6 linked regions of the Homo sapiens genome follow. The protein of the gene in region 5 purifies or fractionates together with the protein of the main gene of each other region. This does not show direct contact. Each region holds a gene or a part of one and is shown on either strand. Other genes may lie near its edges. The genes, in order: SMARCAD1, ANKS3, MTCL3, TSKS, ZNF214 and USP34.

Evidence for each region.
Region 1: the proteins of ZNF214 (region 5) and SMARCAD1 purify together in Homo sapiens (affinity purification with mass spectrometry; 2 studies listed by BioGRID and IntAct, with this or other methods). This does not show direct contact.
Region 2: the proteins of ZNF214 (region 5) and ANKS3 purify together in Homo sapiens (affinity purification with mass spectrometry; 2 studies listed by BioGRID and IntAct, with this or other methods). This does not show direct contact.
Region 3: the proteins of ZNF214 (region 5) and MTCL3 purify together in Homo sapiens (affinity purification with mass spectrometry; one large-scale study listed by BioGRID and IntAct). This does not show direct contact.
Region 4: the proteins of ZNF214 (region 5) and TSKS purify together in Homo sapiens (affinity purification with mass spectrometry; one large-scale study listed by BioGRID and IntAct). This does not show direct contact.
Region 6: the proteins of ZNF214 (region 5) and USP34 purify together in Homo sapiens (affinity purification with mass spectrometry; 2 studies listed by BioGRID and IntAct, with this or other methods). This does not show direct contact.

What each region holds. Positions count from the first base shown.
Region 1 is NC_000004.12:94,272,728-94,277,840, reverse strand, and holds part of SMARCAD1 (SWI/SNF-related matrix-associated actin-dependent regulator of chromatin subfamily A containing DEAD/H box 1), read right to left. Parts: intron 4,225-5,113; coding exon 4,125-4,224; intron 3,104-4,124; coding exon 3,044-3,103; intron 2,952-3,043; coding exon 2,876-2,951; intron 1,503-2,875; coding exon 1,367-1,502; intron 820-1,366; coding exon 682-819; intron 1-681. UniProt on the Homo sapiens protein: DNA helicase that possesses intrinsic ATP-dependent nucleosome-remodeling activity and is both required for DNA repair and heterochromatin organization.
Region 2 is NC_000016.10:4,723,101-4,728,213, forward strand, and holds part of ANKS3 (ankyrin repeat and SAM domain-containing protein 3), read right to left. Parts: intron 4,078-5,113; coding exon 3,879-4,077; intron 3,755-3,878; exon of another isoform or gene 3,681-3,754; coding exon 3,559-3,680; intron 1,732-3,558; coding exon 1,650-1,731; intron 1-1,649. UniProt on the Homo sapiens protein: May be involved in vasopressin signaling in the kidney.
Region 3 is NC_000006.12:127,483,750-127,488,862, forward strand, and holds part of MTCL3 (microtubule cross-linking factor 3 precursor), read right to left. Parts: intron 1-5,113.
Region 4 is NC_000019.10:49,752,371-49,757,483, forward strand, and holds part of TSKS (testis-specific serine kinase substrate), read right to left. Parts: exon of another isoform or gene 4,785-5,113; intron 1-4,784. UniProt on the Homo sapiens protein: May play a role in testicular physiology, most probably in the process of spermatogenesis or spermatid development.
Region 5 is NC_000011.10:7,016,631-7,022,424, forward strand, and holds the start of ZNF214 (zinc finger protein 214), read right to left. Parts: upstream 3,717-5,794; 5' UTR 3,443-3,716; intron 3,121-3,442; exon of another isoform or gene 3,070-3,120; coding exon of another isoform or gene 3,053-3,069; intron 1-3,052. UniProt on the Homo sapiens protein: May be involved in transcriptional regulation.
Region 6 is NC_000002.12:61,190,833-61,195,945, reverse strand, and holds part of USP34 (ubiquitin carboxyl-terminal hydrolase 34), read left to right. Parts: intron 1-2,965; coding exon 2,966-3,045; intron 3,046-5,113. UniProt on the Homo sapiens protein: Ubiquitin hydrolase that can remove conjugated ubiquitin from AXIN1 and AXIN2, thereby acting as a regulator of Wnt signaling pathway.

The sequences.
Region 1 (5,113 bases), on a different chromosome or scaffold from region 5:
ACATTAAGTGGGAGGGAATTCAAATTAGTAAATGTTTAAAAGGCAGTTAATTTGCAGTGGACGAGTATCACAGAAAATTCTTGCAAAAGATTAGTGATGTGGAAGAGAGCCAAGAATCAGTGTAAACACTGCGGTATTGAAAAAACTGGGAGTTCTTGAAGACTATACTTTTCCTAAACAATAAAGAAGTAACAAAACTTTTCTTGTGAAGAGGATTTCTTTACTGTCGCTTTTAGTTGTGACTTTGGTTTTATGAACTTTTATTTCAGAATATATTTCTCAGCATAGGCATTTTCTGGATATTCTAGCTTTGTCTAGTTTTATAGTTTACCCATAAAGAAATGTTACTAATTTACGTAGCCAATTTTGATACAGATGATGTAATGATCAAACTTTCCGCACATACTATATATCTGAGCTCTTCATCAATTTAAAATCGTCATCCTTCAGAAAATTAGGATATTAACCAAGACTTCTGGCCATTGATTAGGGAAATTGCTATTTTCTTTCCCATTATATTTTGGCTGGTTTCCAAACCAATCCAAATATAGAGTTATCACCTACTTAAAGTTACTTCATAGAGCATATGCACTATGAAAACAACAAAAGAGACCTAACAGAAGAATGGCCCAGATAAAACACAAATAACATATTTGGGAGAAAATATGCATTTATGCTTACTGTCTTAGAGGAAAACATTCTTCGTATTTCACTGGTGCTACTACTAAACATGTGTGGCATAACAAAATTCAACAGCGACATGAGTTCTAACAGATTGTTCTGTACAGGTGTGCCTGTGAGCAGCAAACGGTTATTTGCCTGTGAATGAAGGTAAAATTTATATTAGCTTTTTCTTAAAGAGCCACTCCTTTCATGTCTATCCTCCCCAGTGAAAGGTGAAGGGAGGAGAGATAAATTAAAACCATTATTAATAATTTAACATTCTGTGATAAATGATATAGTAATTTAAATAATTGACGTCCGCTATTATCAACAGCAATGAATACGAAAACCATTGGTCTTCTTTTATAAGTAGGTAACTTGTGTCCTCGTATCACCTTTATGAGATGATGAAAGATTATTTATAAATAGTTTAACATATAGAACAGGTAAATTATGGCTTATGACCTAATAATTTTTTAAAGGGTTGTTAAAAAACAAAATCAAAGAATACGTGACAGAGGCCATCTAGTCCATAAAGTGTGAAATATTTACTATCTTCCCTTTTACAGAAAAAACTTGCTAACACAGAATACTACATATATTAAACTACATAATACAGATTCTGCTAATAAATACTACATATATTAAATTACGTAATCTAAATTTTACAGTAATTTGGAAAACTTTACAAACATTCTCTTACATTAATTGTCATAAGGTGCTGGTAGCGAATGGAGCCCATATTCTTCAGCATATGGCCCTCATCAAAAATTGCGTAATTAAGTTTCAGCCGTCGAAACAGACTACGGTCATCAGAACTGCTGATCGCACAGTTATATCTGTCACCAAAAGAAAAAACATCTCTAAGGTTATACCTTTAAGAGCTTGGAGTCTAGTGAAATTTAATGTCTTATAAAATCATTTTTTATTTACACATTTCTAACAGCCAGTACTTAAAGCACAGCACTAGACACGGGTGATACTCAAATAAATACTGACGTACTTGTATTTAATAATTATTGATGTACACTGTAACCAAGCTATGAAAGCTGCAATACATAATTGAAAGAAAATGTTAAAAGGCTGGGAGCGGTGGCTCACACCTGTAATCCCAGCACTTTTGGAGGCCGAGGCGGGCGGATCACGAGGTCAGAAGATCGAGACCATCCTGGCTAACACGGTGAAACCCTGTCTCTACTAAAAATATAAAAAATTAGCCGGGTGTGGTGGTGGGCGCCTGTAGTCCCAGCTATTCAGGAGGCTGAGGCAGGAGAATGGCGTGAACCCGGGAGGCAAGAGGTTGCAGTAAGCTGAGATCGCGCCACTGCACTCTAGCCTGGGGGACAGAGTGAGACTCCGTCTCAAAAAAAAAAAAAAAAAAGAAAATGTTAATGTTACAATCGGACAACTTCTACATACCCAGGAGGAGGTCAATTTGGGTATAACTTGTAAGTAATCTGCTCCATGAAGTGTTATATTTTAATAAGCACAAAAAAGAACGTGAAGCTAAAACATGTTTCTCTTTAAAACTTAATATTTTATTAAACTAGCAGATTAGATCCAAGAAATAATAGTTAATAGCTAGCAGCTTGAGACTGCATATGGAGCCTGTTTTATTAAGAAAAAATAAAATTCCGCATGAATTTTTAAAGGACAGACTCCTACACAAGAAGCCAGTAGAGAGAAATAATAACTACAGTTAAAATAGAACTTTAAATAAATCAACTAATGTAACACAAGAGCATTAAGTTCTGTGCAAGATATTTACATCAATTATTACCAAGTAGTATTATTAGTATTATTTTTCATTTTTATTTCTGCCCTAACTCAAATTTTTCATTGAGAAAATGAAATTTCATTGTATTTATTACAGATACTTATTTGTAAGTTAAAAATATAAATAATTTTGGTGGGATATCTCAAATTTTACTTTAAGCTTAACTGAGAAATTACTATTACAAGACGACTTTTTTCAATAACTAGGCAAAACCTTTTTATAGTCACCATTAATGAGGTGATTCACTAACAAAAACCTCCTATATGGGTATTACACACCAAACTAAAAAATGCCTGAATCCTCAACATTAGTCATTCTATTACTTTCGTATCACAGTTAACAGCATAAACTTTCCTACATAGTACTACTACAATTTCTTTTTTAAATTTGGGGGCTGCATAAATATCCATCCTCCCCAAATTTCTCAATACTTACGTGGTCACAATTACATTGTAATCTTCATATCTACTATGAATGTTAAATCTAATTTGTTTACGTTCTTCTTGAGAACCTAGAATTTAAAAACAATAAACACATGACTATTTATTGTGCTGTACTTTATTTTTAATTTCCAAAGTTAAAAGCAGAATGACATATTCTTACCATAGTAACAGAGGACCTTCAAAGTAGGGCACCATAAATTAACTTCCCTTAACCAGTTATCTATGGAACAGAAGAGACATTATTTGCATCTGCTACAATAGGGTATGTTCACATGGTTAAATTAACACTAAACTTTGACAAGTGCTACTCAGAAATCAGTCTTTTATAAAAAGTAAATACTGGCCCAGCAAGGTGGCTCATGCCTGTAATCCCAACACTTTGGGAAGCTGAGGCGGGTGGATCACCTGAGGTCAGGAGTTTGATACCAGCCTGGCCAACATGGTGAAACCCCATCTCCACTAAAAATACAAAAATTAGCCAGGCATGGTGGCGGGCGCCTGTAGTCCCAGCTACTCGGGAGGCTGAGGCACGAGAACCTGGGAGGCGGAGGTTGCGGTGAGCCAAGATTGAGCCACCACACTCCAGCCTGGGTGACACAGCGAGACTGTCTTAAAAAAAATAAATAAAAATTAAAAATTAAAATATAAATACCATGGCGATTGTTTTTATCACAGACCCTTTACAATATTACTCCTTATGAAACCTATGTAAAATGATCTTGAGGTTTTGTGAGGCATCAAAATGAAGGGCAGATGACCAAATATTATATTTACAGTTGATTATTAACCTCCAATTTAAAGAGAAGGGGGTTTTCTTTGTTACATTCACATGTACAAATATTCTCTTATTCTAACTTCTACATCCAACGAATTGAGAAAGAATGGAACAGTTATGTGTGTAGGAATTAATTACGTATCTGTTTAATTCTACATTTAAAAGTACTCATTTTCTCTTAGTCACTTTTAAAAGTAACTAAAAGTATTATGAAACCAACATAAATCGTCCTTGGTCTAAAATTTTAAAACTGACTTACATTTGAGTTCTTTTTAAAAGACTGCCAATATAATCAAACACACATATATAAACAAAGGAGAAAAGTATAAAGAGACCATAAAATTAATATTCATCTCTACAAACTAAGAAACCACAACACCCCTCCGACACACACCCTTACACACACTCTCTTCTACCTATATAAAACATGATAAAGTTAAATACAGTTGTCTCCAGTATTACAAACCTATAGTTGAAGCTGGAACAACGATCAAATGAGGACCATTATTACCCTCCTGATAGAGGTATGCCAGAAATGCAATGGCTTGAATAGTTTTTCCTAGGCCCTAAAAAGTTTAAAAGACAATATATAACATTTTAAAACAAACAAAAAATAAATACATAAAAATACAGAAGAAAAAGCAGTAATTCTGTGCTGTATTCACTTTTGATTTCCCAGAATGCAACTCTAAAGGAATTTCTACTATGTTCTTAGTTCTCAAATGACAGAATTGATTATAATCTCCAAATGATGCTATAACTTACTTTACTGAGCAGTGGATAGATCTTCATTGCTAGTTCATATACAATACACATTAATATGGAAGACTTTTTGCATTGCATGGAAAGGATATAATTTTGGTTATTGCTTAGACACAGTGAATGTTTAATATCCACTGAATGGTTTAAGGGCAATGTCCCATGACTAAATGGAGGAAACATATGCCTAATCTATCCCAGCAATTCTACCCTTAAGAATATAATCATGAGATATGAGCGCTTATGTTGGCAAAAGGACTTGGGTAAGAATGTTCATAGTTTTATCTTAATAGCCAAACACTGGAAATAACCTAAATAGGTTGGGTGCCATGGTGCATGCCTGTAATCCCAGAACTTGGGGACGCTGAGGTGGGTGGATCACTTGAGCCCAGGAGTTTGAGACAAGCCCGGGCAACATGGCAAAACTCCATCTCTACAAAAATACAAAATTAGCCAGGCATGGTGGCGCATGTCTGTGATCCCAGATACTCGGGAGGGCTGAGGTGGGTGGACTGCCTAAGCTCAAGAGGTCGAGGCTGCAGTGAGCTGAGAGTGCGCCGCTGCACTCCAGCCTGGGTGACAGAGCAAGCACCTGCTTAAAAAGAAAAAGGAAAGAAAGAAAAAAGAAAAGAAAAGAAATAACCTAAATATTCATATCCAACAGAAGAAGATCAACAAATTGCACTGTATTTATAC
Region 2 (5,113 bases), on a different chromosome or scaffold from region 5:
TTGGTAGTGGGAATTCATCAGGACCGCCTGCACTTCCCCCCATTGGGTTTAACAGCCTTATAAAGATATAATCCACATACCAACAAGTCACCCACTTACAATGTACAATTCAACGGCTTCTCGTATATTCACAGTTGTTCAACCATCACCACAAACAATTTTAGCACATTTTTATCACCCCAATCTTCCCATTCCCCAAGACCCAGGAAACCACTCATCTATTTTCTGTCTATGTATTTGCTTATTCTGGACATTTCCTATGAGTGAAATCACCTAGTGTGTGGCCTGTTGTGTCTGGCTTCTTTCACTGAGCCGAATGTTTTCCTTTTCTTTTTCTTTTTGAGGCAGGATCCACTCTGTGACCCAGAATGGAGTGTGGCGGCGCAATCATAGCTCACTGCAACCTCCAACTCCAGGGCTGAAGCGACCCTCTGGCCTCAGCCTCCCAAAGTGTTGGGATTACCGGCGTGCGCCACCGCACCCAGCCCAGCCTAACGCATCAGGGTTCACCCCTGCCGCAGCATGCAGCAGTACTGCATTACTTTGTAGGGCCGAATAATATCCTGCTATACAGATATATATTTTGTTTATCAATTCCTCAGTAGATGGACTTGTGGGTTTTTCTACTTTTTGGCAATTATGAATAATACTGCTATGAATATTTATGTACAAGGTTCTGTGTGGACAGGCTTGCACCTGTGATCCCAGCACTTTGGGAGGCTGAGGTGATCGCTTGAGCTCAGGAATTCAAGACTAGCCTGCACAACATACTGAGACCCCCAACTCTACCAAAAAAAAAAAATTAAATAATTAGCCGGGGCATGGTAGCATGCACCTGTAGTCCCAGCTACTTGGGGGCTGAGGCAGGAGGATCGCTTGAGCCCAGGAGGCTGAAGCTGCAGTGAGCCACGATCTCGCCACTGAACTCCAGCCTGGGATACAGGGCAACACCATGTCTCAAAAAAATAAATTAATAAAATAAAACAGAAATACAACATACAGAAATAACTGCAAATGTATTAAAGCTATGTGTAAAAGGATATTCCCGGAACACTGTTTATAATTGCAAAATGTTAAAAACTAAGTTTCTACTAATAAGAAACTCATTAAATTAACTGAGGCAGATTGTACACGGAATACTGTACAAAGATAAGATGTCTATAAGATGTCTCTAAGTTACAGACTATACGTAGAATCCCACTTTGTTCAAAACACAAAGCAATGTGCACACACTTGCCTACAGACACATCTTTCCACAGCAGAGGAAAAGTCCTAGGGCAGCTCTTTCTCAAACCAAGTGGGCATCAGGGAGGTTGAAAAAGAGAGGAGGATCTCTGCCTTCTTATTCTATATAATTTTTCTAAGTGACAGGATTATGAGTGCTATTTACTTTTAAAATATTTTTCCATAATTTTCAGATAGTATTTTCAAAATTATTACAGGAATAGGTGTCTATTTCTACTCACCACTGTATCCTTAATGCCTAAGCACCACTCAACACCGGGCGTCAATAGATAATGAAAATGTGTTGAATAAATGAATGAAAGTTATTTCTGTGCAAAGGAAAATTCTGTAATAGCTTATACTTCAGTAATATGATTCCTCATTTGCCGTGACTACATTACATGCTAATAATCAGGGTCACTTACGTGATTCAGAAAATACTGCACGATTATCTCATGGCCAGCAGCAGCTGCTTCCATCAAGGGAGTAAATCCACATATCGGCTCCCTGCAAGATGTGGGCCACAGTCAGATGATTGGAAGAGACAAGTTCCGCCAGGCAAAAACTCCCTGCTGAAGATAAACCCTGAGCAGTGCACGAGTCACCGATCCCTAAGCGTAGAACACTGTCCCTTTCCAGAATTAACAGGTGACATGAGAACAGTGAATATAACACATCAGCTCCATTTACTCTTCTGGTGTCTGTCCCCAGGGCTGGTCTTTGTCCTAAAGACAGATGTCTGCCTGTCGTCCCACCTGTTGGCTATTCCCACTGGCTACCTCTGAAATCTCCACCTCAATCATATTCAAAAAGCTGTTCTAATTCCTCACAGAAAGCCAGCATCTCCCATCCATTCATCCAAATCCTGGCTTCAAGTTCAACGTCCTCCATGAACCCACTCTGAAAAGTTCAAGTACTAATGATCTAAGCTATCTTTGCCACGCTTAGCTCCTGAAGCTTGCTTTTCATGCTTGGTTATGCTAACTCGGCACTGTCTTCAGAGGGCTTCCAAATCCCTCCTTGTCTCATGCTGGTTTGGAAGTCAGGAACCATGCATGGGAAATGCTGGTTTTCATCCATCTTAAGACACACAGTGTTCATATTTTAACATCTCTCAAGTCAGAAAACATCTTTAAATCAACAGGCGAGTTGAATGTTAATTAGTAGCATATTTTTTCTTTCTTAGTGGCATACAAAATTATCAGGTGTCTTAGAATGAATGACAGCCAGGGTGGGTGCTGCATTGGTACCCGCTGCGTTTGTTCAAAGGTGATTATTATCATGACAAGCTTTAGACAACAATCCCACTTCCAACTTATAAAACTCATGACTGGTTTTTTGTTTGTTTTTGAGACAGAGTTTTGCTCTTGTTGCTCAGGCTGGAGTGCAGTGGCACGATCTCTCAGTTCACTGCAACCTCTGCCTTCTGGTTTCAAGTGATTCTCCCGCCTCAGACTCCCGAGTAGCTGGGATTACAGGCACCTGCCACCACGCCCAGCTAATTTTTGTATTTTTAGTAGAGACGGGGTTTCACCATGTTGGCCAGACTGGTCTCGAACTCCTGACCTCATGATCTGCCCGCCTTGGCCTCCCAGAGTGCTAGGATTACAGGTGTGAGCCACTGAGCCCGGCCAAAACTCATGACTGTTGTTTTTGTTTTTTTTTTTTTGAGATGGAGTCTTGCTCTGTCACCCAGGCTGGAGTGCAGTGGTGCAATCTCGGCTCACTGCAAGCTCCACCTCCCGGGTTCACACCATTCTCTTGCCTCAGCCTCCCGAGTAGCTGGGACTACAGGCGCCCGTCACCATGCCCAGCTAATTTTTTCGTATTTTTAGTAGAGATGGGGTTTCACCATGTTAGCCAGGATGGTCTCGATCTCCTGACCTCGTGATCTGCCTACCTCGGCCTCCCAAAGAGCTGGGATCACAGGCGTGAGCCACCACGCCCGGCCTCATGACTGTTTCAAAGCATCACCTCACCTCATCCATACAAAAAGCAAGAAAATGGAAGGAATTTGCATGTAATGTATGACATTTAAATGCCATTCAGTATGTTAGGCCCCTGGCATACAATAAAACATGTAATTCTTACAACTGTATGACCCAGGTGGGTTTCAGATAAAGAAAAGGAAGCTGAGAGGGCTTGAAGAGATGCATCTCACAGATGTACGAAAAGGCCTGTGCCTGGAAGGACTCTGGTCCTACCCCTCATCTTGAGCCTCTCGTGCCGAAGCAGGGTGGCCCTAAACTCTGGTTAGCTGCCTCCAGAGCCACCCTCCTTAGAGTCAGATGACACCTAGGCCACTCCTGTGGCCACTAAAGATGTGGCAATCACCTCACGTTGGCATTGGCTCCACTGTCCAAGAGGAACCTGACCATGTGCTGGTGCCCGGCGCTGGTACAGTGGAAGAGGGCTGTCCAGCCCTGGATGTCTTTCATTTCTAGCTCTGCACCTTGCTTCAAGAGAACACAGAACGTGCGTTACGGCCTCATCTCCTCTGCGTGGGGCGGGCGCCCTCCAGGCGGCCATGCTGCAAGAATCAGAAGTGATTACACGAGCACACACGAACACCGTGGCCTGCAGTGGTTCGCATCTCTGTCAGGGTGGCCACGGAGCCCCTCAGGTTTCTGGGCCTGAGTTCCCTCGTAGCTCACCTGGAGAAGAAAGTAGGCGATGCTCTCGTTGCCACAGCTGGAGGCCAGCATCAGTGGAGTCTGCCCTTCTGGGGTCGGCACATTCACACTCACCCCCGCCTCAAGCAGCAGGTGCACGATTGTGTCGTGGCCAATGTAGGAGGCATACATCAGCGGGGTCCAGCCACCACCATTCTTCTTATTCAAATCTAACTCTCTCCTAAACAAACGCAAGATATGCTAGACATGGCCAGCCGCCTCGCATGTGGGGTTCACCAAAGCTGGTGGCGAGGCTAGGCCAGGCGGGATGAGTTGACAGGAAGCAGAAGTTATCTGCCACCCTGGACGTTGTGGGGATTGGAGGCAGGCAGGCAGAAAAATGCTGACAGTTGCTCGTACACTGCCTTGTGAGGCCCTGAGCCTTCGTCTCCTTGCTCTGATTTCGCATCCTCCTAGCCCAAGGCCAGCTATGCTCTTTCACACCACCAGATAGGCAGATGGCACTCAACCAGGGAATATGTGGCAATGTGTGAAGGCATTTTTGGTTCTCACAACTGGGCAGGGAAGGGCTGCTGGAGGCCAAGGCTGCCGCTAAACATCCCACAGTGTCCAGGACAGCCCCCACAGCAAAGAATGATCCAGCCTGGATTGTCAACACAGCCACAGTTGAAAAACCCTGACCACCACAGGCCTGGCATCTACTAGCCCACTGCTGGGTGGAGAGGAGCAGTGAGGAAAGAAGGGACTCCACCGTGGACAAGTCCCACCGCCACTGATTCATCCTTTGTCACCTCACCTTAAAGAAACATTCTTGAAAAATCTGTGACCAAAGAATCCCATCTTTCTCACTGATTGCTGTTAAAATTCTGGCAATGCATTTTCCCATGGGAAAAAACTGTGGGCTTCCTAGCTGCGACTCTGGGGTTGGGACAAGGGAGTCACATTTAAAATAATACCCACTTGCATGGTTACCTGGGATCCTACATGGTTAACGCCCACAGGCCTTCTTTCCCTTCCCCAGTTCTTGCCTGCAGAGGGGATAACAACTGGTGACTGAACCCCAGGATCTGTCCCTTTTACGGGATTCACTTTTTTGTTGTTTTTTTGAGACAGAGTCTCGCTCTGTCGCCCAGGCTGGAGTGCAGTGGCGCGATCTCGGCTCACTGCAAGCTCCGCCTCCCAAGTTCACGCCATTCTCCTGCCTCAGCCTCCCAAGTAGCTGGGACTACAGGCGCCCGCCACTACGCCCAGCTAGT
Region 3 (5,113 bases), on a different chromosome or scaffold from region 5:
CTCAGTTCCATTTCTCACACCAATATAAGAAGAAGGGTCTCTGTATGTAAACAATAATTATCCGTATGTATGACTGTCTACCATATACTACACATTGAGGGGGAGACTCAAAGTTTGATTAGATACTGCATCTACCATCAGGAAGCTGAAACTTAGCAGGGGAGGAGACAGAGAAGCAAACAATTACAGTGCAAATTGATAAATGCTATGCTTTAGGTTCTGTGAAGCAGGGGTTTTGATTTAGTGTGGCATCACCACCATAAAAATAGTGCTTGCCACATGGCAGGTGGTGAAAAAAATACTTGCTGAACTAATGATATATGAATACCAAATCGAGGTTCTGAGGTCAAAGAGAAGGACAGGGGTATAGACTGACAGTAAAAATAGGGAAGCCTTTTCCAAACAGGAGTCTTCATAAATTCGCAAAGAAATGAAAATTAAATTCTTCACATGTTAATTTCTAACCCATATCCACTGTTAAGTAAAGGCATACGTTCAAGCACAGAAGGCAGGGGAATACTTTGGTGCAACTGCTTTCATTCAGTATGAAACTGAAACTACACAGACAAATGAATAGCCCACGTGGTTATTCATTTCTAGTTCTTTACAGGAAGAAGTTCTTTCTGTTGCTTGTATAATCTTCTTAGAAAGGAAAGCTTGGGGACTGACTCACCATAACCAAAAAGTAATTTAGGAAGTAATCAACAAAACAGTCCCAAGAATACCAAGAATAAAGTGAGCTAAACTAAGAAACCTGGAACATTCTAGGTAGGGGCTGCCTACAAGAAGCGTTGAATTTGTTTCACTAAATACTTATTGAATGCTTGTATTTGAATTCACTCAATTATGTGTTTATTTAGTGACTACCAATGCACTTCATAACATACCTGTGACACAATAATAATGAAACCAATGTGATCTTTGCTCTTTTGGGGGTTCTCAGCTTACTTGGCATGATCTGTTCAGTCTGGAATTCAACACAGTGTTATGAAAGCAATGATAATACAAGAACAATATTAACTGTCATTGAGCCCTAATTCATGTCAACCCCTTCACATACATTATCTCAGCTAATTTTTAAACACTCCTTTTAGCCTCACTTTGCAGGTGCTGAAACTAAAGTTTACAGGGGTAACAGAAGTAGATGAATAAATTATCAAAAGCATCAGTTATCTCTGTGCTCCTCAGAACAGCATCATCAGTGTCACCCAGAAAGCTGTTGGAAAAGCAAATTCTTGAGATTCATCCCAGAACCACTGATTCAGAAACTCTGAGGATGAGGCCCAGTGATCTATGATTTAATAAGCTAAAGTTTGCAAATGTCTAAAGTTACTAGTTGGTAACAATAACTTCAGACCTTGACCCAAGTCTTTCTCATATCTAACTGTTAGCTATTAGATCACTAAGGAGAAAGACTTTATCTAATCTAGGGCTAGAGATGGTGTGGGGAGCTAGGGATAATTTCCAAAATGAGTAGCATCTTATCTAGAATCTGGTGCATGAGTAGTTAGCCAATGGAAGATGAAGAGGAGGAAAAGGGAAAAAAAAAGGCATTCCACATAGAAAAACCATTTCTGGGACAGAAATTCCATATGGGTGTTACAGAGTGAGAGGAGAGGAGTGACATGAGATTTGCTGGTGGCATAAGTCAGATCTTGAAGGACATTGAATAAAGATTGAATTTTATCTTATTCAGGTCAAATTATTGTCCTAGGGTCAACTTGGAGCACTAAATGCTCCTATTGAGCAAGAAATGTCATAATTAGACTGTCATAGAGATATACAAAGACACAAGGGTGGCAGTACAAATCGCTGTGAGATAAAGATGTTACATGCAGGGGTTTCAAGGGAAAGTATGTTCTAGTTCTGGAAATGTTTTTTGGTCTTTGTGTTTCATTCATTTCATAGGTATTTAGTTTCTGGTCTATATGTGGTACTGTATATATGCCAAACACATGTGACTAAGAAATATTGTACTCTTTCCCCAAAGAGCTAACTGTTTATAATGATAAAAAGGATGCAATTAGCAAAAACAGTGGGCAGAACTAACTCAGGGCAATAAATGAACAAAAAGGGACTGAGAGGGCAAAGGAAGAAGCTCTAATTCCAGATCTGGGGAATCAGAGAAAATCATTCAAGAGAACTGACTTTTGAAGGATATGCAAAATTTCAACAGAAATAAAACTGAACAAACTGTTGTAGGAGTAAAGATATAGAGGAATGAGTTTGCCTTTCAGATGCACTAACTCCTGAAAAGAAGTGATGGAGGTAGGGCCACTGTAGAGATGGGGTAAAAGAAGATGCAGAAAAGATTGAGGTCAGCTTGTGCAGCTGAGAAATTTAGACTTTATCCTGTGGGCAATGTTAAAATGAGACCTCTAAATTAATATAAGAGCAATGCTGAAATTAGGGCATTCTTTCCTAAGAGGCATTTTCTATTTTGCTTTTATTTAAATATCACTCAGGTGGAGTGTTAAGCTCAAATAAAGCTCTGAAGTAAAGCCTTCCCCTTGAATAAAGATACATTAGCTTTCAGGTGCCTTTAGGGCTGCTACTATGTGTAAGTATCACATTTGCATTTTCAATAAATATTTCATATTTTCATATTCCAGTAAGTTTATGTTAACTTTCTGAATCCTATGAAACAAAGATGAGACATTTCTATGGATACAGAAAGTTAGAGAAATAATGTGAGTCCAAGTAGTCCCTTTCCTGTGAGGATGAAACTGTGTAACCTCCCCCCTTGTCATCCTCCCCCACCATCATCCACTAAATCTTGTAACCTCTGCTAGGGGAGCAGTTGGGGAGGCCACAATGAAATCTCAGATTTTCATATTTGCTGGCAAAGCAGGCACTTCTCTAGATGGTTCTCTAGATAAATACGTTGAAAACATTTATTGTCCACTTCTTAATTCTTTACATTCCCAGCCTCAGCTTGTCCAAAAGAGGCTGCTGTTTTTTTTGATCATGAGAAGGCCAGGAATTAGAGAGTTTTGCCAGTAATTATTTTTTCACAGCAATGATATAAAATGGGTTGTTTGTTTTCTAAAAATGTTTTGAGATTATCTTCCTTTTCTCAATTAAAATTTACTCCACTTAGTATGTAGCATCTTTATGTTTTCAGCAATTAAACCACAGAGAAGAATGTGCCTAACATGCTACCAAAAGACATATTATGCATATAGAAGTCTCCTATGCTGTTGATAAAATTAAAGAGAGATTCATTTGTGTGGTAATTAAATCAAGAAGGAAACTATAGAGACATTAATATTTAGATCTTTTGAGCCCTAAATATGTGTCATGCACTTTTCTAAGCACTTTATATGTATCTACTCATTCAGACTGACAACAGACTTATTGACACCATTGTCTGAAGCACACAATGGATTTATCGCTCAGCTAGCTAGTGTTAGAACCAGGATGCAAATTAGCCAGTTTCAGAGTTCCCACTCTGAACAACTACATTATACTGTTACTTCGACAGAAAAAGGTGCAATTTAGATAGCAGGCTTATATTATTTCTGAGCATATCCTTTATGGTAACAGAGCGTGACAGCAAGGTTTGGGGTACTAGGTTACATATATGACACATGTGCAGAAGTTTTAATATTTTCAACACAGGGATCAGCAGAAGTGACATACACCACTTACTGGTTCTTAAATCAATCTGTAAATACTGTGACTATAGGGTAACACTGGGAGGGAGGCCCAGGGATTGCCTGCTGGAAGGAAACTGAAAAAGGTAGAAGCTCTGTCTCCAACTTGTCTTGGAAGGGGACAGAATGGGCTCTTGTTCCTAGAAGTCTTCCTCTTTTCCTTCTATTACATCCTTGACACTTACCCAGACAGACTGGCAGAGGCAGAACAGGTGAAGTGCCCAGAGAGCTTACTTAGGACCACATTCACTCTCTTCCCTAAAAGGGTGAGGCAGGATCCCAAGCTTCATACTAAGGCATGATCTTAAGGTCCAGAGGGGAATGTGGGTGAAGAAGAGGCACATGCCAGGGTGATCAAGCTGTATCATCCTGTGCAAAATCTTTCAGTGGCTTCCCATCTCACTGAGTTAGAGTCATGCTTTACTAAGGTATACCAGACCCTGACTACACACTGGATTTATTCTGGTAATGTTTTATAAAGACTTGACCAGATTTCAACCCAGACCAATTAAAACAGATTTTGGGATTGGGCCCAGACATTTTTTCAAAGCTCCCAGAGTGACTAGAATGTGTAGCTGGTTCTGTCAACTACCAGCCCACTCTATGTGGTCACCCCACCCCCCAATCCCACATCCCAAACAAGCCCTTCAACCTCATCTCCCACCACACTCCTCACTGCTTTCTTTGCTCTAGTGTCACAGGCATCCTTGCAGTTCCTCAAACATACCAAGTATGCCCTTGTTTGGGGCCTTTGGATTATGGCTTCCTCTGCCTGCAACATTCTTCCATCATATACTCTCATGACCCACTTCCATAGTCTCTTCAGGGTTCCTAATAAGAGAGACCTTCCCAGGCCATTTCATATCAAAAAGCAAATCCTTCGGCCATTCTCTTCCTTTGCATATTCCTTGTCTTCCTAATTCTGCTTTTTAATTTTTCCCCATAGCTCCTCTAATCTCACCAACTGACTTGTATATTTGTTTGTTTCAATGTCTGTTTTCTCATTCTGCAATGTGAGCTCCACAAGAGCAGGCTCCTAGAATTGGTCTCTGTTATAGCTCCTGCTCTTAGAAATATACCTGACACAAAGTAGTTGTTTAGTCTATGTCAGTTCAATGAGGAAACAGCCACTGTAGCTTTATTTCTTACCTAGATTTGTTTTGGAAGCGTTACTAAAAGTCAATAAATGATAACAGGTAAACAAAAGCCCATTTGAAAAGGTCTACTTTAAAAGTAGACCTTTAAAAAGCTGGAATATAAAATGGAAAGAAGCTGGAAAAATAAAAATGTCTTAGGCTTTTCAACAAAAAGACTAAAGAGTCAAAATTGTATGAGCTGAAAAGTATTTAAAACAGGACATATCACATATAGCTGGCCCTCTGTATCTACAGGTTTCACATCTGTGGATTCAACCAACCACAGATTGAATTTTTTTTAAGTACAACAATAAAAAATAA
Region 4 (5,113 bases), on a different chromosome or scaffold from region 5:
AAAACTCCATCTCAAAAAAAAAAAAAAAAAAAACTTGTGTGGCATCTCCTTGCTCCTGCTCTTGCCAGGTGATATGCTGGCTCCATCACCTTTTGCTATGAGGCCCTCACCAAAAGCTGAGCAGATGTTGGCACCATGTTTATCAGATAGCCTGTGAACCATAAGCCAGTTAAACCTCTTTTATTTATACCCAGCCTTGAGTATTCCTTTATAGCAATGCAAGAATGGACTAACATGGAGTGGGAGAGGGAACATTTGTAAAGAAAAAAAAATTTTACGCTTGTTTTAATGTTGCTACTGCCGAAGGCAATGGATAACAGTTGGGGTAAACAATAAAAAGCAAAAAATCTTAAAAGGAAAATCTGATGGACATATCTGTAGAAGCCTTGAAATGTTCCAACAAATTCCTGGGAATGTAGAAAGCCATTGGCCTGTGTAGGGTTGTGTACATGCTTGGGAAAGTTCTGAGAAGGCCCCAAGCTTTTCACCTCTGGCTGACCTTGAAACCTTGAAACGCTGCACAAGCAGGAAGGGAAGGCTAAGGTAGAGTTGTAAATTGTCTGAGTGTTAAAGGTGTGCCTCATCAGGCACACAGAGTGCCATTTGGCAAAGACTAGAAGATTTTGTTGTTGTTCCAGTTTAAGGAAATGTCTCTCCAATCATTAGCTAACCACTAAAATTAGAGAACAGAGACTTCAGTGGCCAAACATGACAAAGAACACAGATATTACAGAAATAGTTCAGAAAAGTCTGTTTTTTAAAAAGCAACTACAGGCCAGGTGCAGTAGCTCACACCTGTAATTCCAACAATTTGGGAGGATGAGGTGGGAGGACTGCTTGAGCCCAGAAGTTCAAGACCAGCCTGAGCAACATAGTAAAACCTAATCCCTTAAAAAATAGTAATAAAATAGGCCGGGCGTGTTGGCTCATGCCTGTAATCCCAGCACTTTGGGAGGCCGAGGCGGGTGGATCACGAGGTCAGGAGATCGAGACCATCCTGGCTAACATGGTGAACCCCGTCTCTACTAAAAAATACAAAAAATTAGCTGGACGTGGTGGCGGGCGCCTGTAGTCCCAGCTACTCGGGAAGCTGAGGCAGGAGAATGGTGTGAACCCGGGAGGCGGAGCTTGCAGTGAGCCGAGATCGCGCCATTGCACTCCAGCCTGGGCAACAAAGCAAGACTCCATCTCAATAATAATAATAATAATAATAATAATAATAATAAAATAAAATTAGCTGAGCTTGGTAGTGCACACCTGTAGTCCCAGCTACTCAGAAGGCTGAGGCAGGAGGATCCCTTAAGCCTGGGAGTTAGAGGCTGCAGTGGGCCACAATCATGCCACTGTACAGTGGCCTGGGCAACAGAGCAAGATCATGTCTCAAATAATAATAAAAATAAATAAATAAAAATAATAAAATAAAAAGCAACTATAACAAGCAATAATAACAACAAATCCTTATGAGTGGGGAGAATCTGTTTCTAGGGTTGCTACATTATGATACTTTATTTTTTATTGTATTTTTTTTTTTTGAGACAGAGTCTCCCTCTGTCCCCCAGGCTGGAGTGCAGTGGCATGATCTCGGCTCACTGCAACCTCTGCCTCCTGGGTTCAAGCGATTCCCCTGCCTCAGCCTCCCCAGTAGCTGGGACTACAGGCACCCGCCACCACGCCTGGCTAATTTTTGTATTTTTAGTAGAGATGGGGGTTTCACCATATTGGTCAGGCTGGTCTCGAACTCCTGACCTCAGGTGATCTGCCTGACTTGGCCTCCCAAAGTGCTGAGATTACAGGCGTGAGCCACCGTTCCCTGCTACATTATGATACTTTAAATGGCCAGTTTTCAGGCCAGGCACGGTGGCTCACACCTGTAATCTCAGCACTTTGGGAGGCCAAGGCAGGTGGATCACCTGAGGTCAGGAGTTTGAGACCAGCCCAGCCAACATGGTTAAACCCCGTCTCTGCTAAAAATCCAAAAATTAGACAGGCATGGTGGTGCACACCTGTAATCCCAGCTACTGGGGAGGCTGAGTCAGGAAAATCGCTTGAACCTGGGAGTCAGAGGTTGCAGTGAGCCAAGATCATGCCGCTGCACTCAAGCCCGGGTGATAGAGTGAGACTCCATCTCAAAAAAAATAAAAAATAAAAAATGGCCAGTTTTCAACAAAAAAGTTATAAGGCATGCAAAGAAAAAAAACTATGGCCTATACAATGGAGGACAAACAAGCAGTCAAGAGAAACTGTTCAGGGGTAGGATGGCGGGGGCAGATTTGGACTTACTAGGCAAACACTTTAAATCAGCTACTTTAAATATGTTCGAAGTGCTAAAGGAAACCATTCCTAAATAACTAAAGGAAATTGAGAGAATAATGTCTCACCAAATAGGGCATATCACTAAAGAGACAAACATTATTAAAAGAAACCAAATAGAAATTATAGGGTTGAAGGGCCAGGCGCAATGGCTCACACCTGTAATCCCAGCACTTTGGGAGGCCAAGGCAGGCGGATCACGAGGTCAAGAGATCAAGAACATCCTGGCCAACAAGGTGAAACCCCGTCTCTACTAAAAATACAAAAATTAGCCGGGGATGGGGTGTGCACCTGTAGAGCCAGCTACTCGGGAGGCTGAGGCAGCAGAATCGCTTGAACCCAGGAGGCAGAGGTTGCAATGAGCTGAGATCACACTACTGCACTCCAGCCTGGCAACAGAGAGAGACTCCGTCTCAAAAAAGAAATTCTAGGGTTGAAAAGTACAATAACCAAAGTGAAAAATGTACTAGAGGGGGCTCTGTAGCAGAATAATGATTCAGTGAACTTGAACATAGCTCAACTTTGATTATCCAGCCTGAGAAACATGAAAACAAAAAGAATGAAGAAGAATGAATACAGCCTCAGAGACCTATGGATCTGGGAGTCCCAGAAGGAAAGAAAGGGGCAGAAAGAATATTTGAAGAAATAATGGTTGAAAACTTCCAAAACTTGATGATTTGAACATAAATCCACACATCCAAGAAGCCAAATGAACTCCAAATAGGCTCCAGGGGCCGGGCCAAGTGACTCACTGCTGTCATCCCAGGACTTTGGGAGGCTGAGGAGGGTGTATTACTTGAGACCAAGAGCTCAAGACCAGCCTGGCCAACATAGCAAAACCCTGTCTCATAAAAAACAACAATAAGAAGGCTGGACATGGTGGCTCACACCTGTATTTCCAGCACTTTGGGAGGCCAAGATGGGAGGATCGCTTGAGCCCAGGAGTTTGAGACCAGCCTGGGCAACAAAGTAACACCTGCGTCTCTAAAAATAAAAATGAAAATAAAAACACTTTTAAAATAGGATAAAATGGGCCAGGTGGCTGGGCTTGGTGGCTGATGCCTGTAATCCCAGCACTTTGGGAGGCCAAAGTGGGTGGATTATGAGGTTAGGAGTTTGAAACCAGCCTGGCCAAGATGGTGAAACCCTGTCTCTACTAAAAATGCAAAAATTAGCCTGGCGCGGTGGTAGGCACCTGTAGTCCCAGCTACTTGGGAGGCTGAGGCAGGAGAATCGCTTGAACCTGGGAGGCGGAGGTTGCAGTGAGCCGAGATCGTGCCATTGCATTCTAGTGTGGGCGACAGAGCGAGACTCCATCTCAAAAAAAAAGAAAAGAAAGAAAGAAAACCACAGACCAATATCCTTTATGAATATGGTCACAAAAATCATCAACGAAATACTAGCAAACCAAATCCAACAGCATGTAAAAAGGATTATACATGGTGACCAACTGGGAATTATCCCAGGAATGCAAGGTTGGTTCAACATACTAAAATCAACCAATGACTGGGCATGGTGGCTCATCCCAGCAATTTGAGAAGCTGAGACAGGAGGATCACCTGAGGCCAGAAATTCTAGACCAGCCAGGTCAACATAGTGAGACTCCATCTCTACCAAAAAATTTAAAAATTATCTGGGTACAGTGGCATGTGCTTGTGGTCTCAGCTCCTTGGGATGCTGAGGTGGGAGGACTGTTTGAGCCCAGGAGGTTGAGGCTGCAGTGAGCTATGATGGCACCATTGCACTCCAACCTGGGCAATGGAGCAAGACTCTGTCTCTAAAAACAAATAAATGTTACATACCATATTAATAGAATAAAAGGGAAAAAAAACACATGATCATGTCAGTTGAGAAAAAGCTTTTGACAAAATACCACTCATGATTAAAAAAAAAAAAACACTCCACAAACTAGAAATAGAAAGGAAGAAAGGAACTTCCTCATCCCAATAAAGGGCAGCTACAAAAATCCCACAAAATGTGATAGTTTAAAATATGTCCATAAATTCTTTCACATTCCTTTAAAACGTGGAGCCTTATTTGCCTCACTTGAGTATGAGCTGGACTTGGTGACTCACACCCAGGAAATAGAATAAGGCAGGCTAGTTGTGGTGGCTCATGCTTGTAATCCCAGCACTTTGGGAGGCCGAGGCAGGTGGATCACCTGAGGTCAGGAGTTCAGGACCAGCCTGGCCAACATGGTGAAACCCTGTTTCTACAAAAAATACAAAAATTAGCTGGGCATGGTGGTGCACACCTGTAATGCCAGCTACTCAGGAGGCTAAGGCAAGACAATTGCTTGAACCTGAGAGGCACAGGCTGCAGTAAGCCGAGATTGCGCCACTGCACTCCAGCCTAGGTGACAGAGACTCTGTCTCAAAAAATAAAAAAATAGAATAAAGTAGAATTGATGATATGTGAGGTAAGAGACTACTTCATAAGAGGAACTGTTTCTTATTTGCTCTCTCTTCATCTAGGGAACGATAGCCTCAATGTCATAAGCAGCCACCTATGAAGAGGCCCATGTAGCAAGGAATTGAGGCCTCCAGCCAAGGGCAGGTGAGTGCCCCATTTTGGTAGCACAACCTCTGGCCCCAGTCCAACCTTCAGGTGACTGCAGCCCCAGCCAAAATCTTGTTTGCAACCTCGTGAGACGCCCTGAGCCAGGCCCACCCAGCTGAGCCCCTCCAAGTTTGTTGTTTGAAGTTTTGGTGTAATTGGTTTCACAGCAATAGAAAGCATTACACAAAGTGTCTTTCTAACCTGAAGACTCAGAAGGTCTTGGGTTTCCTGTGGGTAATTGTTC
Region 5 (5,794 bases):
GCCTCAAAAGTAATCTTTGTATACATATGTGTATGTGTAATTTGTATATGAAAAGGTAGCACCACAGTCAGTAGAGAAGATAAATGTTAGTAGAAAAATTAAATAACCTAAGTAGGAAGTAAAAAGAATGTTTAAATTCTGTCATTTCTCACATCAAAATAAATTCTTGATAGATTTAAAAATTAAATGTTTAAAATAACACAATTAAGAAACAGGAAAATGAAAGCAATTACATATTAAATTTGGAAGTGAAGAAGAGATTTCAAAGCACAGAACTATATAAGTAAAAGAAATGAGATTTCATTTTATGCAAATTTAAAACTTATATAAACAAGTCCTTAAAGTAAAAGGCAAATGATAAACTAGGAGAAATATTTACAGCATATGACAAATGATTTATATGTTTTCCACACAAGAATATCTAATATCAAGTGGAAACAAAAAATTCAGTAGGAAAACAGTGATGTATATCAAAAGGCAATTCATCAAAGAAGGAATATAAAGAGTCAACGAATATATGTGAAAAAGTCAACCCTACTAAGGATTAAAAAGGATGCAAATCAAGGCAAAATTTAAAACTTAATACTCAGTGCTGGCAAAGGCTCAGTAAGATAGAATCATTCATCAAATGGTTGTAGGAGTTCAAGTTCACATAACATTTCTAAAAGAGAACTTCAGTTTTTCAAAAGCCTAAAACATGCTTATATCCTTTGATTCTGTTTTCCTATTTCTCAGAGTATATCTTGAGAAAATAAAAAGACATATACTTAACAAATTATGTATAAGAATATTTATTATAAGATATTTATAACAACAACATATTGGGAAATACTTAAATTTTCCCCAGTAAAAAGCAAACTTAATGGGAGTCCAAGGTGGGCAGATTGCCTGAGCTCAGGAGTTCAAGACCAGCCTGGGCAACACGGTGAAACCCCATCTCTACTAAAAATACAAAAAAATTAGCTGGGCATGGTGGCGTGCACCTGTAGTCCCAGCTATTCGGGAGGCTGAGGCACGAGAATTGCTTGAACCAGGGAGGCTGAGGTTGCAGTGAGCCGAGATTATGCCACTGCACTCCAGTCTGGGCGACAGAGCGAGACTCCGTCTCAAAAAAAAAAAAAGCAAACTTAAATAAAGCATACTATATACCTAGAATGGAACACTATACAGTCATTAAAACTCATGCTACCAAAACATGCTTGGAAAAATGCTCATTATATGTTAAGTGAAAAACGTATACAAATAACAGCTATTCATACATTGAATAAATATTTACTGAGTGCTTAGTATACGCACAGTACACTTCTATATACTGGGAACATTTCCTTCCCTCATGGAGACTATTTGTCATGAGTCAAATTTTTTAATTTAATGTTTTATATATACTAATCTTTTTATATACGTGTGTGCATATACCTAAGTTTATATTTGTACATGTGTATGAACATGTATACATACATATCAGTATTTGTACAGACTAGTGAGTACATATATACAATAAGTATTAAATAAAAGACTACAAGTAAATACACCCAAAGGTCAACAATGGCTGTCAATATGGTTCATGTGAAGAGATGCACAAGAATAAATAACAAATTTAAACATTAATTGCCTTCCACAATGTGGCTTTATACATTCATGTTTCACTTCCCTGTCACTAGCCTGGTTTCCTTATTTGTTCCCTCAAATTGTACCTGAGAGTAAATGATGGCTTTCCTATTTAGAATATCTTCCTACTCATAATTGTTCAAATCTGAGTTTCTGTTGCTGTGTTTTAAGTGCCACTCATTCTGGCACTGTTTAATGTCGATAACTTCAGAAATTATTATTAATCTCATATAGTTTATTACCCCCAATGTTAAGACTTTTTTTTTTTTTTTTTTTTTTTTGAGAGGGAGTCTTCCTCTGTTGCCCAGGTTGGAGTGCAGTGGTGCCATCCTGGCTCACTGCAACTTCAGCCTCCCGGGTTCAAGCAATTCTCCTGCTTCAGCCTCCTGAGTAGCTGGGATTACAGGTGCCTGCCACAATGCCTGGCTAATTTTTGTATTTATAGTAAAGACGAGGTTTCACCATGTGGGCCAGGCTGGTCTCAAACTCCTGACCTCAAGTGATCCGCCCACCTTGGCCTCTCAAAGTGCTGGGATTACAGGCGTGAGCCACCGCGCCTGGCGATGACATTCTTATAATTCTTTATCTCAGAACACCAAGAACAGCATGAATTATACACTAGACTTGAGTGACTGAATGAATGAATGAGTAAATGTTGGGAAAAGACACTGGGTTGGGGCAGGGTCAAGTCTGCACGCTCGAAAATTTCACAGGCAAGCGAGGAACGTTTTCTGTCCAGTCATCCATCCATCCTCATTGCCACCTCCACCACCCATGGAGAATGCAGGGACATTTTGTAAATGAGAAAAGACAATCATCCTCACTTGGGATCAGACTATGAGGGAAACAGTGTACATTCCTTCCTCCTTTGTGTTCCTCTTCTGGGGAAGGGTAGAGTGCTGAGACGGCTGAGCTGAGGAGGAAGGCAGACTGAAAACCTGGGTATGGCTTTAAATTCCCAAATTCATTAAATTTCCCATATACTAACTGGGTATGACGCACACATCTCCTAGCAAGAGGTCCAAAAGAAGCCTATGAATGCTCTTGTTTCCTTTCAACGACCAGAAAGGAGAGCTATGAACACTGGCACCTTGAAATTTATTTCCAACCCTCTAGAAACTTCAAAAGATACAACTCACTTATTTATTGAGATTATTATTACTACTAACAATAATAGGAAAGCACCAGCACACTTAAATAGTATCTATTCTCAAGGTATTTTTCTTATTTTGTTCAGTTTAAGTAGAAAATCATTCCATTGTCCTCCCCTACTTGCTAAACAGGAATACTGGATTTACTATCAGAAAAGTACCTGGAGTCTTAGAGAAGTATCCCAGAACTGGAGCTCCCAGGTCCTGATCAAAGTCTCAACTGTGCCATCAAGCACTTGTAGAACTTTAAAGAGGACCAAACTTATAGATCTCCAAGATCTCAGTTTCCTTACCTGTAAAATGGGGGCATGAGCCTTTGCCACCCCAGTCCTTCCTTGCTGATCAAAGGTAGGTTCCTGGGCAAAGTAATAAGCAATTAGTTAACCCTCTTTCTCTAGGGAAAAAACGTTTCATGCGTGCCCCAAGAGCAGGACAGGTTTGGGCTCCCCCAACGCGTCACGGGCTGCCCAAGTGTAAGCACCAGAGAACCAGACACACGAACGGTTCTCTAGGAGCGGGATCTCCCGGTCTCCGCCACAGACCCGGGGGTCCCCTGCTCCTGCACTGAAGACGCGCGCGGCCTCCGTTGCTTATCCAGATCCCCGGCCAGAACTCTGCCCCGGCACCGAACACCGGGCACCCATACCCCGGGGCCCAAGCTGCTTCTGCCCTCCTCTACTTGCCTTTATTAAGTCTTAACGTGGGAGAGAAGCCGTGATGTACCCATCTACACGGGTGTCTCTGGGGTTTCTAAACCGGAGTAGCTTCTCAGTCCCTGACCCTCGATTTTCTGCCCCTCTTCCTTCAAGCACAGCTCGTCTTGCCCTGTCCGCTTCTGGCTCAGTCCTCCTGAGAGTTCATGTCACTTAACGGAGCCTGTGAGAGTGGACCGGGATGGCCAAAACACTCAGTCCACACAAACAATGGCCGCAGCCCGGCTGGACCGAAACGGAAGTCCCAGGTCTTGGAGTAGACACTCGCAGTGTTTCCATGGATACGGGAGGGGCGGGGCGGGAAGAGAGAGCGCGGGAAAACGTGACTCCTGATTGGCCAGAAGTATCCCGCGCCTCCCGACCTTTGGCCGCTGGCATTCCTGCGCGGGCGGGAGCTGCGGGCGCTCGGGGGATAAGGCGAGGACGCACCAGCATTAATGGAATAGGAGAACTCCCGAAGCTTTTAGGGCCCTGGGAAAGGGGGCGTGGCTGGAAACGGAGCTACTGGCTTCGGAGAATTCTGTGACCCTCACCACCGCGACGACCCCGAGGAAACGCTGTCAGGTCGCCTTTGGTTGGCAAGGCGTGGTTGTCCTCGCTGTCCCGCGCCTTGGCGGAATGGGCACCTCACTAGCCCTGGCACTAGCTAGCATCGCTCTAAACTCAAGGTTAGAGGTTTTCAAATTCCGTCCTATTGTTGCCAGACACCCTCTTCGTTCCTGGTCCAGTGAGGCTTTCCTCCCTCCCGCCTTCTTGCCAAATCCCAGGCTCCTCTGGAGACTCCAGGCAGAGAAGGGAAACGCACAGTGGAGCTGAAATGAAGCCATGAGAAGGAGCCCCTCCTCAGTGTCCTGGGACCACAGAGAGTTGCAAGAGCCTGTTCTATTATTTAGCTGAGTGTGTTATATTAGGAAAATACTTTCGCATCTTTGGGCCCTGTCCTTCAAACTTGGGCTGGATCAGTAATATTCAAACATTTTATTAGGCAAGGAACTTTTGGTAGGATAGTCATTACAAGCAAGGGACTCCTTGGATTCAAATCTGACAACACCACTTACGAGATCTTGGCTGGATTACCTAACCTTTAAGCATCAGCTTAATAGGCGTAATATTGATAGCCAATAATAATAGTAACTATGTAACAGACTTGTTAGATTGAAATGAGTTAGTGTAGTTAAAATGCTTAAACCAGCCCCTTGCACATAGGAAGTAGTCTTGTGAACTATATATTTACAGTTTGGTGTTTAGCAGGGGTGGGTGGCCCAGCGCCTATCTGCTTGAGTTCACCACACAATAAGCTCTTGCATTTTTTATGACTCTGGAGACCACATTTTGAAAATTACTGGGCGTGGGCCTTCCCTGGTTTGAACATTCAGAGAGCATAGCATAGCATTTTAAAAATGTGGGCTTTGTTGTCTGACGGAACTGACATTAAGAGCTGTCAATCATTGTTATCCACTAGGTGGTGGTAAGCAAGTTGTTTAACCGCTCACCCTTAAGTATTTTCACCTGTAAATTGCAATGTATTTATTTATTTATTTTTTATTATACTGTAAGTTTTAGGGTACATGTGCACAACGTCCAGGTCAGGTTTGTTACCTATGTATACATGTGCCATGTTGGTGTGCTGCACCCATTAAATCTGTCTCTGCATTCAGTAATTCAACTATCAATTGCGGCTATTTAAATACATTAAAAAGCAATGTATTTAAATAGCCGCAATTGATAGTTGAATTACTGAATGCAGAGACATTGACCGGTAAGAACGAACACTGGAAGTGGGCTGTTCTGCCACACTGCTTCCAACCTGAGAATATTACCTGAACCTCATTGAACTAACCAAAATTAAAAGAAAAAAAAAAAGCTAAGAGGATCCAGTTTTCAGAGAAACAAAATGTGTATCTGAAGGAATATACCTGCTAAAGGGCAGAGGCCAATATGAATAACAAAGAGCACCAAGTATAGCATACGCAAGACTTTTAGGAATGAATTCTACCCAGTTACAGTTTGGGGTTTAGCAGGGGTGCCCGGCCTAGAGCCTATCTGCCTCCGTCCACCACACAGTGAGCATCTGCATTTTTTATGACTCTGGAAGCTACATTTTGAAAATTATTGGTCATGGACCCTCCCTGGCTTGAATGTGCAGAGACCCAAAGCACCAGCTTTGATGGGGGTCCTGGGAGCAGTCACCAGATGCCTAGAGATGTACCCAGGGTAGGAGTGAAGAAACTGCCTTGCATGGGAAGAGAGGGATAGCCCAAGTTCCTAGTCCAAGATGTTGCAGATTCTTCATAGCAAATAATTGAAGAATCTAAGAATATG
Region 6 (5,113 bases), on a different chromosome or scaffold from region 5:
GATAAGAGCCAGACCTTGTCTCAAAAAAAGAAAAAAAAATTGAAGATTATTTTACTTTGGGGGGATAGTAGGGGAGAAATGACTAGAGAAATTGTAGTATACAGTCTGCTTGCCCATAAGAGGGTTAATGTCAGAGCAGCCTCTAGTTCAGAGGTTAGTGGGTTAGCAGACTCTTTTTGCAAAGAGGGGACACTATATATTTTAGACTCCACAGGCCACAAGGTCTCTGTAACATACTGTTTTTTGTTTGGCTAATGGTTTTTTTGTTTTGTTTGAGACAGAGTCTGGCTCTGTCACCCAGGCTGGAGTGCAGTGGCACAATCTCGTCTCATTGCAACTTCTGCCTCCTGGGTTCAAGTGATTCTCCTGCCTCAGCCTCCTGAGTAGCTGGGATTACAGGTGCGTGCCACCACGCCTGGCTAATTTTTGTATTTTTAGTAGAAACGGGGTTTCACCATGTTGGTCAGGCTGGTCTCGAACTCCTGACCTCATGATCTGCCTGCCTTGGCCTCCCAAAGTGCTGGGGTTACAGGCATGAGCCACTATGCCCAGCCTGGCTGATTTTTTTTTTTTTTTTTTAACCTTTAAAAATGTAAAAGCCAGCCGGATATGATGGCTCATGCCTGTACTCCCAGCACTTTCAAAGGCCAATGCAAGAGGATGAATTATGCCAGGAGTTTGAGACCAGCCTGGGCAACATGGCAAGACCCCATTTCTACAAAACTTTTTGAGAGAGTTTGCTCTGTCACCCAGACTGGAGTGCAGTTGCATAATCTTGGCTTACTGCAACCTCTGCCTTACGGGTTCAAGCAGTTCTCCTGCCTCAGCCTCCTGAATAGCTGGGATTACAGGTGTGTGCCACCACACCCAGCCAATTTTTGTATTTTTAGTAGAGACGGGGTTTCATTATTCTCCTGCCTCGGCCTCCCAAAGTGCCGGGATTACCAGCGTGAGTCACCATACCTGGCCCAAAACTTTTTTTTTTTTTTTTTTTGACAGAGTTTCACTCTTGTTGTCCAGGCTGGAGTGCAATGGCACGATCTCGGCTCACCGCAACCTCCGCCTGCCGCGTTCAAGCAATTCTCCTGCGTCAGCCTCCCAAGTAGCTGGGATTACAGGGATGTGCCACCACGCCCTGCTAGTTTTGTATTTTTACTAGAGACGGTTTCTCCATGTTGGTCAGGCTGGTTGCGAATTCCTGACCTCAGGTGATCCGCCCACCTTGGCCTCCCAAAGTGTTGGGATTACAGGCATGAGCCACTGCGCCTGGCCCCAAAATATTTTTTTAAGAAAATTGTCCCAGCCTGCAGTCTTAGCTACTACGGAGGCTAAGGTGTAAGGATCACTTGAGCACAGCGGTTCAAGGCTGCCCCTGATCTGTGATCACGCCACTGCACTCCAACCTGGGCAACAGAGTGAAGACACTGTCTGTCTCAAAGAAAAAGCCATTCTTAGCTCACAAGTCCATATAAAAACAGGCCATGGGTCAGATTTGGCCTGAGGGCCATAGTTTGCTAACCCTTCCTCTACTTTGATGAGTAATTAGGATACAGGAACATGGGAACGTAGGAACTCTCTTCCCTATAGCCACAGATGTGATGACATGTCCTTGTTTACCTATGTGTGTGGTGATACCGTGGTGGGTATATGCTGCCAAACACCAACCAGATTAGGTTAGGATAAAGGGGAAGTAGCATTTCCTTGCCTCTTGTGTCTAAAGGGACTCATCTTGACAGGAAAATAAATTGGCTTACCTGTGGAAGGGATCCTAGGCATCCTTGGTAAGTTCTGAGTGAGTGACCTGACTTGCCTGTGTAGGATGTTCTCAAGTCCTTGGTCTAACCCACGGTTTGGCAAATTACAACCCACATGCTGCCTGTTTTTGTATAACCATGGCTACCTGCTAGCTAAGAATAGTTTTCATATTTTTAAATTTTTTTTTAATATAGAATATTTTCTGACATGAAAATTATGAGATTCCCATTTCAGTGTTTGTAAAGTTTTACTGAAAGACAGCCACACCCATTTCCTTACTCTTGTCTAAGGCTGCCTTCACACTGCCTCAGCAGGGTTGAGCTGTGTTAACAGAGCATGGCCACAAAGCCTCAAACACTATTTGGCCCTTCCCAGAACAAGTTTGCTGACTCCTTGTCTAACTCAGTCTTTTCTTAACTGGAAGAGGATGGTCTGTGTTATATTTCTTCTTCTCCATGATTATACTTGCCCTGGGGACCCTAGGGGATGTGGAAGATGGGAAATTCATTTAGGACTGTGGTAATGAAGCTTCTGTACTTTCAGAGATAGGATGACAGAGGATAGGGGCACACATCTTAGTGACATATTTTACATCTGGAATAGTCAAGAAGTGGAGAAGTAAATTCATAGAGGTTCCAAATAGCACTCTCTGACATAGTGCCAGATGCGGTCCACTCAGAAGATCCTGGGAACAAGCCAAGAAACTGGTGTTAAGGGCCGCATTTACTTAAATGTACCACAAAGGTCATTCTATCTTTGAAGAAAGAAGGTAAAAGAGGAAAGATATGTTTAATTCTCCACTTTTTTTTTTTTTTTTTTTTTTTTACCTTTCCCCTCCTCCCTCCTGCAGTCTAGCCACCCTATGAAAATTATCTAATAGGCAGAGTGGTACCTTAATCCAAGAAAGATTTGGAGCCACTTGCAGTAACTTTTTCTTTTCCCAGATAAAGTTCTAATACTCAAAAAAGAAGAGTTGATTTAAGTCCCATATCCTTCAGGAATGAGGTATAGGATATAAATAAATTCAAAGTACCACATTCTAAGATATTTCACTAAACATTGGAATGAATTTTTCCCCTTTATGTACTTTAAAATATAGAAAATATGCAGTTATGACTAGAAATAGCTGTAATATTGTACCTGCAGAGTTGAGTATCTCACTAGTATAATTTATAATTATAACCTATTCTGATTTCTTTTCAAATATTAGGTGTCCTAGTTGCCTATGAAGGTTTGCCACTTCATCTTGCACTGTTCCCCAAACTTTGGACTGAGCTATGCCAGACTCAGGTAAAGAAAATGAGTTTTAGATGATTGGTCTTTAATCTTATCTGACCAAGTGGTCAATAATTTTAGGAACAGTGGGTTGAAGACTTGCTGAAAAGTGGGGACATTTTAGAATCTTGATAGGTAACATATGAATGAATGAAAATACTAGCTATTACATATTAGGCATCTAGTTTCCCTTTGATTTTTTTAACTTAAGTAGATTTCTATCATAGAGGATATTTTAAATAAGCTGGTTATAATTGAATTTCTCATTTATAGATGTATATCAACAGTTGTGGGGAAAATCCAAAACAGGGAGATAGTGGGGGAAAAGGCACTTGCCACTTCTTCCTCTCCTTCACCTCCCTGTCTCTACCTCTTTTCCACCATTCCAAAACCTCTAGCAGAAACCCTGTCAGCAGTCTGTCCTTTAGCTTTTCATAATCTGTAGTTTTTCAGGGGTCTGATGCACTTGTTTTCTTACAGCGATCTCCTTGAAAACAGGAAAGATTACTGTTCCTACCTTAAGTGTCTAAGAGCCAACTCCTTAAAATTAAGTGGCTGCATAAATAATGCTTGTTAAGTTACAAAGGCAGAATTGGGAAGAGGAGGAGGTACTAATGTTTGGCTCATTCCTTGGATCAGGCATAAAGGATCCCCACTACCTTTCAGTCCCTGAAAAAACTGTTGATTGTACTGCCTGGTTGCATCTGCTCTACCCCATTGGAAGAGATGAATTTATTCACCTTCCTTAGGTGCAACCCTTGACCCACATCATGCTTTCCTGAAGTATTTTGAGTCTGGTTCAGCCTCCTACCAGGCTGTAGTGTGCTCTGGATTCTCCTAGATGTTTGCCATCCTGTACTCTACTGGTGGTTTCTCTACTTTTCCAAAACAGAACTCAAGTGTAGAGACCTTATCAGAGTCATCTCCATCCCCTGAAGAAATGCCACGTTGTTCTCTACAGTAGAAATCTTTCAGAGGCTAGTATACACTGATCTTAGCTCACTTGACTTAGCATACAGTAGGCATTCAGAAAATGACTTTTATCAGTTGATTTTTGAGCTGAGTGTTCTGTTCAGTCAATTGGAGATCTCGTTTTCCCTCTCCACTGCTACTGCTGTTCTTTTTCATTCTTCCTGATTTGGGTAGTTTCTTGGTTTCTGTACTCTCCCACTACCTATTGCTCCCTATTGCTTTCTCTACTTCTGCATCGCAGGACTCCCTTCGCTTGACTTCTTTCACAGACAGAACTCACTGTGCCCCCAAATTTCCCTTAAAACAAAGCCTAACCATATAAGGCCTCCAAAGCTTCCAGTGCTATAGAAGCAGCCATCCTGAGCAAGAAACAGAGGCAGAGGCACAGGCTGTGACTGGTAGACCAAGGCAGGTTTTTCCTAGTGTTAAGGATCTCAAGACCTGGGTCTTGGTCCTACTTGAATCCTAATTTCTTGACTGACCTTGAGTAATTTACTTATGACAGCTGCATACTTTAATAAGATATACACATATGCATATATATATATATATAATCTAAATTTTGTCCTATTTAAAAAATATATTGCTTTTTTCCATATAAATTATTAAAATGCACATTTAAATCTATGGAGTGTATCTGCTTAAAGACATACTACTTGTGTTTAAGAGCCATGACTATTTGAAAACAGGAAAACCAAATTTTAGTAAAATTTCCATATATTGAGACCACTGATTCTGTGTGAGATAATTAGGAAAGAAGATTTATTGTTTACCCTTGCAGTGTTTATGGGGGGAAAAGGTATTTACAGAATTACTGTTGCTAGCGAGAATATACAGTAAAGTTTAAAACATTTTGGAGAATTGATTTTGATTCTTAAAATGTGTCTTTTTGCAACATATGCTCTGGTTACCTATAAATACATTAATTTGGCCCTTGAAAACATTCACATCCTATTCTTTGTTAGCCTTATTTTTCCAGTCCTTGTTAACTCTCTCAGTGCTGGATAATAAACCTGCATTTCTTTTAAAACATTTGTTCAGTTTCGGCATCAGTGTCTTCCCCCAGCACTCCCTTAATCTAAATTAGTAACATTTTACTGTATGAAAAATA